Linked DNA regions of Homo sapiens. The protein of the gene in region 1 interacts with the protein of each later gene in a biochemical or structural test. Each region holds a gene or a part of one and is shown on either strand. Other genes may lie near its edges. The genes, in order: PDZD8 and MAP2K2.

What was found.
Region 2: the proteins of PDZD8 (region 1) and MAP2K2 interact in a test that uses a peptide from one of them, tested with the Homo sapiens proteins (one large-scale study listed by IntAct).

Annotation. Positions count from the first base shown.
Region 1 is NC_000010.11:117,368,654-117,372,469, forward strand, and holds part of PDZD8 (PDZ domain-containing protein 8), read right to left. Parts: intron 1-3,816. UniProt on the Homo sapiens protein: Molecular tethering protein that connects endoplasmic reticulum and mitochondria membranes. PDZD8-dependent endoplasmic reticulum-mitochondria membrane tethering is essential for endoplasmic reticulum-mitochondria Ca(2+) transfer.
Region 2 is NC_000019.10:4,117,616-4,121,431, reverse strand, and holds part of MAP2K2 (dual specificity mitogen-activated protein kinase kinase 2), read left to right. Parts: intron 1-3,802; coding exon 3,803-3,816. UniProt on the Homo sapiens protein: Catalyzes the concomitant phosphorylation of a threonine and a tyrosine residue in a Thr-Glu-Tyr sequence located in MAP kinases. Activates the ERK1 and ERK2 MAP kinases.

The DNA.
Region 1 (3,816 bases):
TTTGGAGATCAGTGAAGTAAATGCTTACATAGTTATTAATGACCCATTCCACTAAAGCAAACTATCCACCAAACTCGAACAAAAAGGAGACACTATCTACTTACCATCACTACATGGTAGAAAAATGGATTGCATTTCAAGGCATTTTTTTTTTTCTGGCAGAGTGACTTTTTAAAATTCAACATTATATTGACAATGTTTTTTTTTTTTTTTTTTTTTTTTGAGACAGTCTCACTCTGTTGCCCAGACTGGAATACAGTGGCGCAATCTTGGCTCACTGCAACCTCCGCCTCCTGGGTTCAAGCAATTCTCATGCCTCAGCATCCCCAGCAGCTGGGACTGCAGGTGCGTGCCATTTTTAGTAGAAGCGGGGTTTCACCATGTTGGCCAGGCTGGTCTCGAACTCCTGACCTCAAGTGATCCACCCACCTTGGCCTCCCAAAGTGCTGAGATTACAGGCATCAGCCACCACGCCAGGCCTGACAATGTCTTTTATTTATTTATTTATTTATTTTTACTTTTTGAGATAGAGTCTTGCTCTGTTGCCCAGGCTGGAGTGCAGTGGTATGATCTCGGCTTGCAGCAATCTCTGCCTCTCGGGTTCAAGCGATTCTCCTGCCTCAGCCTCCTGAGTAACTGGAATTACAGGCATGTGCCACCATGCCCAGCTAATTTTTGTATTTTTAGTAAAGATGGGGTTTCGCCATGTTGACCAGGCTGGTCTCGAACTCCTGACCTCAAGTGATCCGCCTGCCTTGCCCTCCCAAAGTGCTGGGATTACAGGAGTGAGCCACCGCACCTGGCCAACAATGTCTTTTAAAAAATAAAATTGCTCTATGACAGTCCCTTCAAAAATGTAATTAAAAGAAGGATAAAAATGATCACTCTCCCTCTCCACTCCAGCTATTAAGTCTTCTCATTTTCACTAATCAGCAACAGTAATGCTCCCTATTTACTCCTCCAGTACGGGTCTCAAATTCATATAACTCCAAGCCAGGCAAGTACCATCAATTAAGCACAGCAAATAAGGGGGGACTATAAACTCCACCTAGGAGCTTACACACCGAGTTTCAACCCCAAAGCTGCTACTACAGTCCATCTCTCCATCCTGTTGTTGCTCTGAGAAATGCAGCACTGGCGCTACAAGATATTCCAATTTTTCCTAACAGAAGCCACAAATCCAAAACACACAGAATTTTCCATTTTTTAAACAGTGCAGGCCAAATTAAAAGTACCTGCAAACTGAATCTGCTTGTCTATATACAATAATACTCCAGGAACACAAGCATCCGTAAGAATCTCAAATATTTGACTCCTAAACCCTAAACAGAGCTCCCCACCCAGACACTATTACTCAGACTCCATGTTTAAGATGAATTATCCACGTAGTAAAAGAACATTAGTGGTAATCTTTCTCCCTTGAGGATGGATTCTGAGGTTCATTTAAAAAAATATATTGCTATTATAATATACTATTTTAATTAAAAAATCAAACCAATTAACATTGAGGTGGATGAATGAAATTCCTAACTTGAATAAATCTGTAAACATATTGTCTACATATTATAATTCATTTTGTAAAATAAAATGTTTTACAAACATTGTAAGTTTGTTAACTTGGGTAAAATGAAATGTCAGTCAGCTGGGTCCTTAGAAAGCAACCACTTGAGCAACTTAGCATCTCTAGGTGAAACATCAGGAACTGGCAGTCCAGAGAGGCTGATTCACTTTAGCAACACGAAAAAGGCAAAATAAATGAAGGGGGAAAGAAGTAATAACAACGTTAACTGGCAAGATATTTGTTATGTAATGATTACAAATGCCAAAGGATCGTAAGACTCCATACAATTCTCTTTACTGCTTTAGCTCTACTAAGAAGATTAGATAGCTAAAAAAGAATAAACTAGGCCGGGCACAGCGGCTCACACATGTAACCCCAGCACTTTGGGAGGCCGAGGTGGGTAGACTGCCTGAAGTCAGGAGTTCGAAACCAGCCTGGCCAACATGGTGAAACCTGTCTCTTCTATTTGGAAACACAATTCTGCTCAATTAAAAAAGAAATGCCACGTGGGACAGTACCCAAAGATTTAGCCTCATGATTTACTTTTAAAAGGATCCTCTAAAATGACCAATTTAAGAAAAAAAAATCAGCTTTATAGTCATACTCTTCTCAAGAGTTCTAGGTTAGTTTGGAAAGATATCCCACATATTTACTATATCGATGGCATGCTTTTAAAAAATAAATCACTTAAGAACAACATAGTTTGTGTGTGTGTGTGTGTGTGTGTGTGTGTGTGTGTTTAAAGGTGGCCTGGCCTTATCAGAGCTGCGTTTCAACACTTGAAAGCTGTGTGACTTTAAGCAAGTTATTTAACTACTCCGAGCTCCATTTCCTCATCTGTAAAAAAAGATGAACACTAGCTAGTTTAATTTTCCCTGTGAGAAGTATGCTATATCTTAGATGTATTGTAATTCATTCTTATCTGAAACTTGAATCAGTCCCACATCATCACCAGTTTGTTTATTTATTTATTTACTTATTTATTTTGGAGACGGAGTCTCACCCTGTCGCCCAGGCTGGAGTGCAGTGGTGCGATATCGGCTGGCTGCAACCTCTGCCTCCCAGGTACAAGCCATTTTCCTGCCTCAGCCTCCAGAGTAGCTGGGATTACAGGCGCCCGCCACCACGCCCAGCTAATTTTTGCATTTTTACTAGAGACGGGGTTTCATCAGGTTGGCCAGGCTGGTCTCACACTCCTGACCTTAAGTAATCCGCCTGTCTCAGCCTTACAAAGTGCTGGGATCACAGGCGTGAACCACTGCACCTGGCCCATCACCAGTTTAAAACACTGGACAGAACAGCTACACAGACAAGAAGTCATCACTTGCTGAGGCAGCCCTTTTCATCGTCATACTTGCTATTTTCTTCTACTAAGCTAAAACCGGCTTCCTGGCTACTTCAACCCCATCAATCCCATTCTAGTTTAAATCTTACAAAGCGCCGGGCAAGGTGGCTCACACCTGTAATCCCAGCACTTTGGGAGGCTGAGGTGGGAGGATCACTTGAATGAACCCAGGAGTTCCAGACTAGCCTGGGCAACAAAGCAAGACCTATCTCTACAAAAAAAATTTTTTTTTAATTAGCCAGGAGTGGTGGCACACACCTGTGGTCCTAACTACTTGGAAGGTTGAGATGGGAGGATTGCTTGAGCCCAGGAGGTCGAAGCTGCCGTGAGCCATGATCCTGACACTGTACTCCAGCTCTGGGCAACCGAACAAAATCCTGTCTCAACAAACAAACGAAAAACACAAAAAAATTACTAAGTATAGCTAATTCAATTCTCACTAGACTCTAAGCTTCCTGAGGGCTGAGTTCAAGTATTGTTCAGTACTGAAATCCCAGCATCTACAACAAGGATAAGCATATAGCAGGTGTACAATAAACATTTACAGATTGAGTGATATGCTCTGTGCAGCTGACTGAGCATTGAGATGCCATCCAGTATAAATAGCACAGATGTGCATACTTCTGGAAATGATCATTTAATGCTTCACATTTAGAAGTTGAAATATCATAACCAAATTCATGCTGTTTTTAAAAAAATCCCTTCAAAGTGAAAAGCAATTTTGCCATACTTTTAAATGGTTGTTATTCAATGATACAGATAATAGTTTTTCAAAGTAATAAACTTCTCAATGCCTCCATAACTTATTCATAACTTACTTCAGATTTACCTAAATTCCAAGTCTACATTAAAAAAAAAATCTCAAAATGATATGTAATCTCACTGTCATTGGCTAGTCTACAAATTTCAA
Region 2 (3,816 bases), on another chromosome or scaffold:
CCAGTGTGTGGAGTCCCTGAAGCTGGAAGTGTGAGGAGACAGGGAAGCCAGAGTGTGAGGAACGAGGAGGCGTGGGGATCAGGGGACCCTGCTGGCCCCTGAAAGCAGAGGTGCAGATTCTGAAGTGAGTGGACCGGAAAACCCTTGTGAGGGGCTGACCCAGTGCAGAAGCTTTGAGGAGGTGGAGGGCGACCAGAGGCCTGGGTGAAGGGATCTGAGAAAGGGGTATGCTGGGGTCCGGGTGGCGTGCTGGCAGAATCGCACTGCTCCAGGACGAGGGAGGGGACTGGGTGTTGGGGGCACACACTGGTGGGGTCATGCCAGGGTGATCTCTGCACTCCCGTTCTGCAGGCCGAGGCAGGGCAGGGCGATCCCCGGGGCCCTTGGCTGGGGTCCGGGTGCCGTGCCTGCGGTGTGACCCCTCAAGAACCAGGTGTCAGGGACTGTGGCATGTCTGGTGGCCTCTCCCGCTTGGGGGTCGGCCTTCTGTGACCCAGATGAAGACTCTTGATGCCAATGTGTGCAAGTCAACACGGGCACAGCCAGACACGGGGACCCGTTCCTCATTCTCTGCACAGAACTCGCCCTTCACATTTCTCTTCCGTGTGGGGTTTGATTCCCATCTCTTGAAGGATTCCCCCAGGAGAGGAAGCTGGCTGTAGGGACGCCAAGGTTTTGTTTTGTTTTGTTTAATAACCACAGTTGGGTTGCCAGTAAATTTAAGATGGATTAGTCAGCTGACTCCAGAATGCATTTTCAATGTTTTGAGCAGTACTTGAGACCTTCCAAGTCTGCCATCAGAAGTGTTCATTCATGGCTGGGTGTGGTGGCTCACGCCTGTAATCCCAGCCCTTTGGGAGGCCAAGGTGGGTGGATTACTTGAGGCCCAGAGTTCAAGACCAACCTGGCCAACATGGCAAAACCCCGTCTCTATTAAAAATGCCAAAAAAATTAGCTGAGCGCGGTGATGCACACCTGTAATCCCAGCTACTCAGGAGGCTGAGGCAGGAGAATCGCTTGGACCCAGGAGGCAGAGGTTGCAGTGAGCTGAGATCGTGCCAGTGCACTCCAGCCTGGGCGACAGAGCAAGACTGTCTCAAAAAAAATAAATATTCATTTATTCATTGATGTTATTCATTCATTCATTCATGTTCCCCTCCTTACCTTCTGTCCCACTCCCAGGGTCTCGCCATTTCTGCTTCTTCTGGGTCCTTGTTCAGCAGCTCCTCAGTGAGCACCTACTAGGGCCCTGTTTCCCCTCATGGGGGACACTAAGATGAGCAGGGGTTGTCCTGACCTCAGGCAGGTGTTGTTACCTCGGGCAGGTTCCCCCACCCCTGTGAGTCTGTTCCCTCCTGCCTGGGCCTCCGGGGACGATGGTGAGAATGGAATGAGATGGTGTTTGTCCAGCCCAGGAAGCGGTGCCCAGGCCCCTGCCTTCCAGCGAGCTCTTTGCAGCACCAGCTCCAGCGCCATCGCCTCGGTTCTGGCCTGTGTGCCCCGTGGCTTACGCCACTTCCAGCTGTAGGCGAACAGTGGTCGAACTTTGGGATTGGAAATTTCCAGATGGAAGGAGCAGTCCACGCCTTCATTCCCTGCTTCAGTCCCCTCTCTGGCTGTCCACCTTGGCTTTAGCTCCTTCCTGAATTGGGACCTCTGGAGGTGGCCTGTTCTTCCAGAGAGCCATTTAAAGCTGCACTGCCTGGTTGAGTAGCCCCTGGCTACAGGCAACACATAAAACAAGAATTGCCCAAACCCACGAGAGCATAGGCGCAATAATGCCATTGTAGATTTCAAAGGCTTAAGACGGAAACAGTGTGAAACATTCATTCATTTTTCATACTGGTTGTACGTTGAAAATGATAACATTTTTGATGGGTTAAATCAAATGTGTTATTAAAATTAATTTCAGCCAGGTGCAGTGGCTTATGTCTGTAATCCCAGCACTTTGGGAGGCCAAGGTGGGCAGGTGGCTTGAACCCAGGAATTCAAGAGCAGCCTGACCAACATGGCGAAACCTTGTCTCTACTAAAAATACAAAAATTAGCTGGGCGTGGTGGCGGGTGCTTGTAATTCCAGCTACTTCGGAGGCTGAGGCAGGAGAATTGCTTGAACCCGTGAGGTGGAGGTTGCAGTGAGCCAAGATCACACCACTGTACTCCAGCCTGGGCGACAGAATGAGACTTTGTCTCAGAAAATAATAATAATAATAAAAATTAATTAATTAAAAAGAGCCAGACATGATGGCTCACACCTGTGATCCTAGCTACTAGGAAGGCTGAGGTGGGAGGATCACTTGAGGACAGGAGTTGGAGGCTGCAGTGAGCTGTAATCGTGCCGCTGCACCCCAGCTTGGGAGGTAGAGCAGGACCCTGTCTCTAAATAAATGAAGTGAGTTCACCTGTTCTTTTTAAACATGGGTACTAGAAGATTTTAATTTGTGCGCATGGTTTACATTCCATTGCTTGTGCACAGCAATGGGTTCCTGTGTGCATTGCGCTTAGTTGTCTGTTACTCCAGGATCTGGTTCTGAGTCAAGGCATTTGTGAAAATAGCTTACTGTCGAAATTTCCTCTGAAGATTCCTTGAATCACCCAATAAAGTGCAATGTACTTGCTTGTTTAAATTGTTAGAAATTTTTTATTGTGTAGAAACAAGGTCTTGCTCTGTCACCCAGGCTGGAGTACATTGTCACGATCATGGCTCACTGCAGTCTCGACCTCCTGGGCTCAGCCTCCTGAGTAACTAGAACTACAGGCATGAGCCACTGTGCTCGGCTATAGGTCTCACTTTGTTGCCCAGGCTGGTCATGCTTATTTTTTGTTTTTTTTGTTTTTTGGTTTGTTTTGTTTTGAGACAGAGCCTCCCTCTGCTGCCCAGGCTGGAGTGCAGTGGCAAGATCTCAGTTCACTGCAATCTCCCCCTCCCGGGTTCAAGCAGTTCTCGTGTCTCAGCCTCCCAAGTAGCTGGGACTGCAAACGTGCACCACCGTGCCTACCTGATGCAGCTTTTGTGCTGAGCCTTCTGCCCTCTACTCTTGGTTCTCATTCTGTGCTCTGAGGCTGCTCAGAACGCTTGTTCCTCTATCTCCTGCAAAGACAGACATCTTGGCCCGGGCTCCGTTCACCCGATCCCAGCTTCCTCGTCTCCTCCCGACATGGTCCGGAGCTCGTGCGTTAGGAAGGAGGTCTCCCGGCCGCGTGCAATGGCTCACGCCTATAATCCCAGCACTTTGAGAGGCTGAGGCAGGCGGATCACTCAATGTCAGGAGTTGGAGACCAGCCTGACCAACATGGCGAAACCCTGTCTCTACTGAAAATACAAAAATTAGCCGGGCATGGTGGCGGGAGCCTGTAATCTCAGCTACTTGGGAGGCTGAGGCAGGAGAATCTCTTGAACCCGGGAGGCCAAGGTTGCAGGGAGCCGAGATCGCGCCACTGCATTCCAGCCTGAGCAACAGAGGGAGACTCCGTCTCAAAAAAAAAAGAAAAAGAAAAGAAAAAGACGGAGGCTTCCTGGGTCCTTTGAGCTGCAGCTTATCCTTGAGGTCCTGAGGTCTGCTAGACTTGTTGAGACAGGATCAAGGCAGCGTCCTCAGTTCCCGGGGAGCCGCCCTGGATTCTGGTCATTGGTGTGTCTATGGGGGTACACAGCATGGATCCTTTCCTTCTACACCATGAACCCCTCAAGTGCAGGAATCCAGTCTGTGTCCTCCTGGGGGCCGATGCACCACGGCCACATAGCAAACGGCCAGATGGAGTCTCCCTAGGTAGCTAACCCCTACCCTGGGGGGTCTCTGCAGGGCAAACCTGGTGG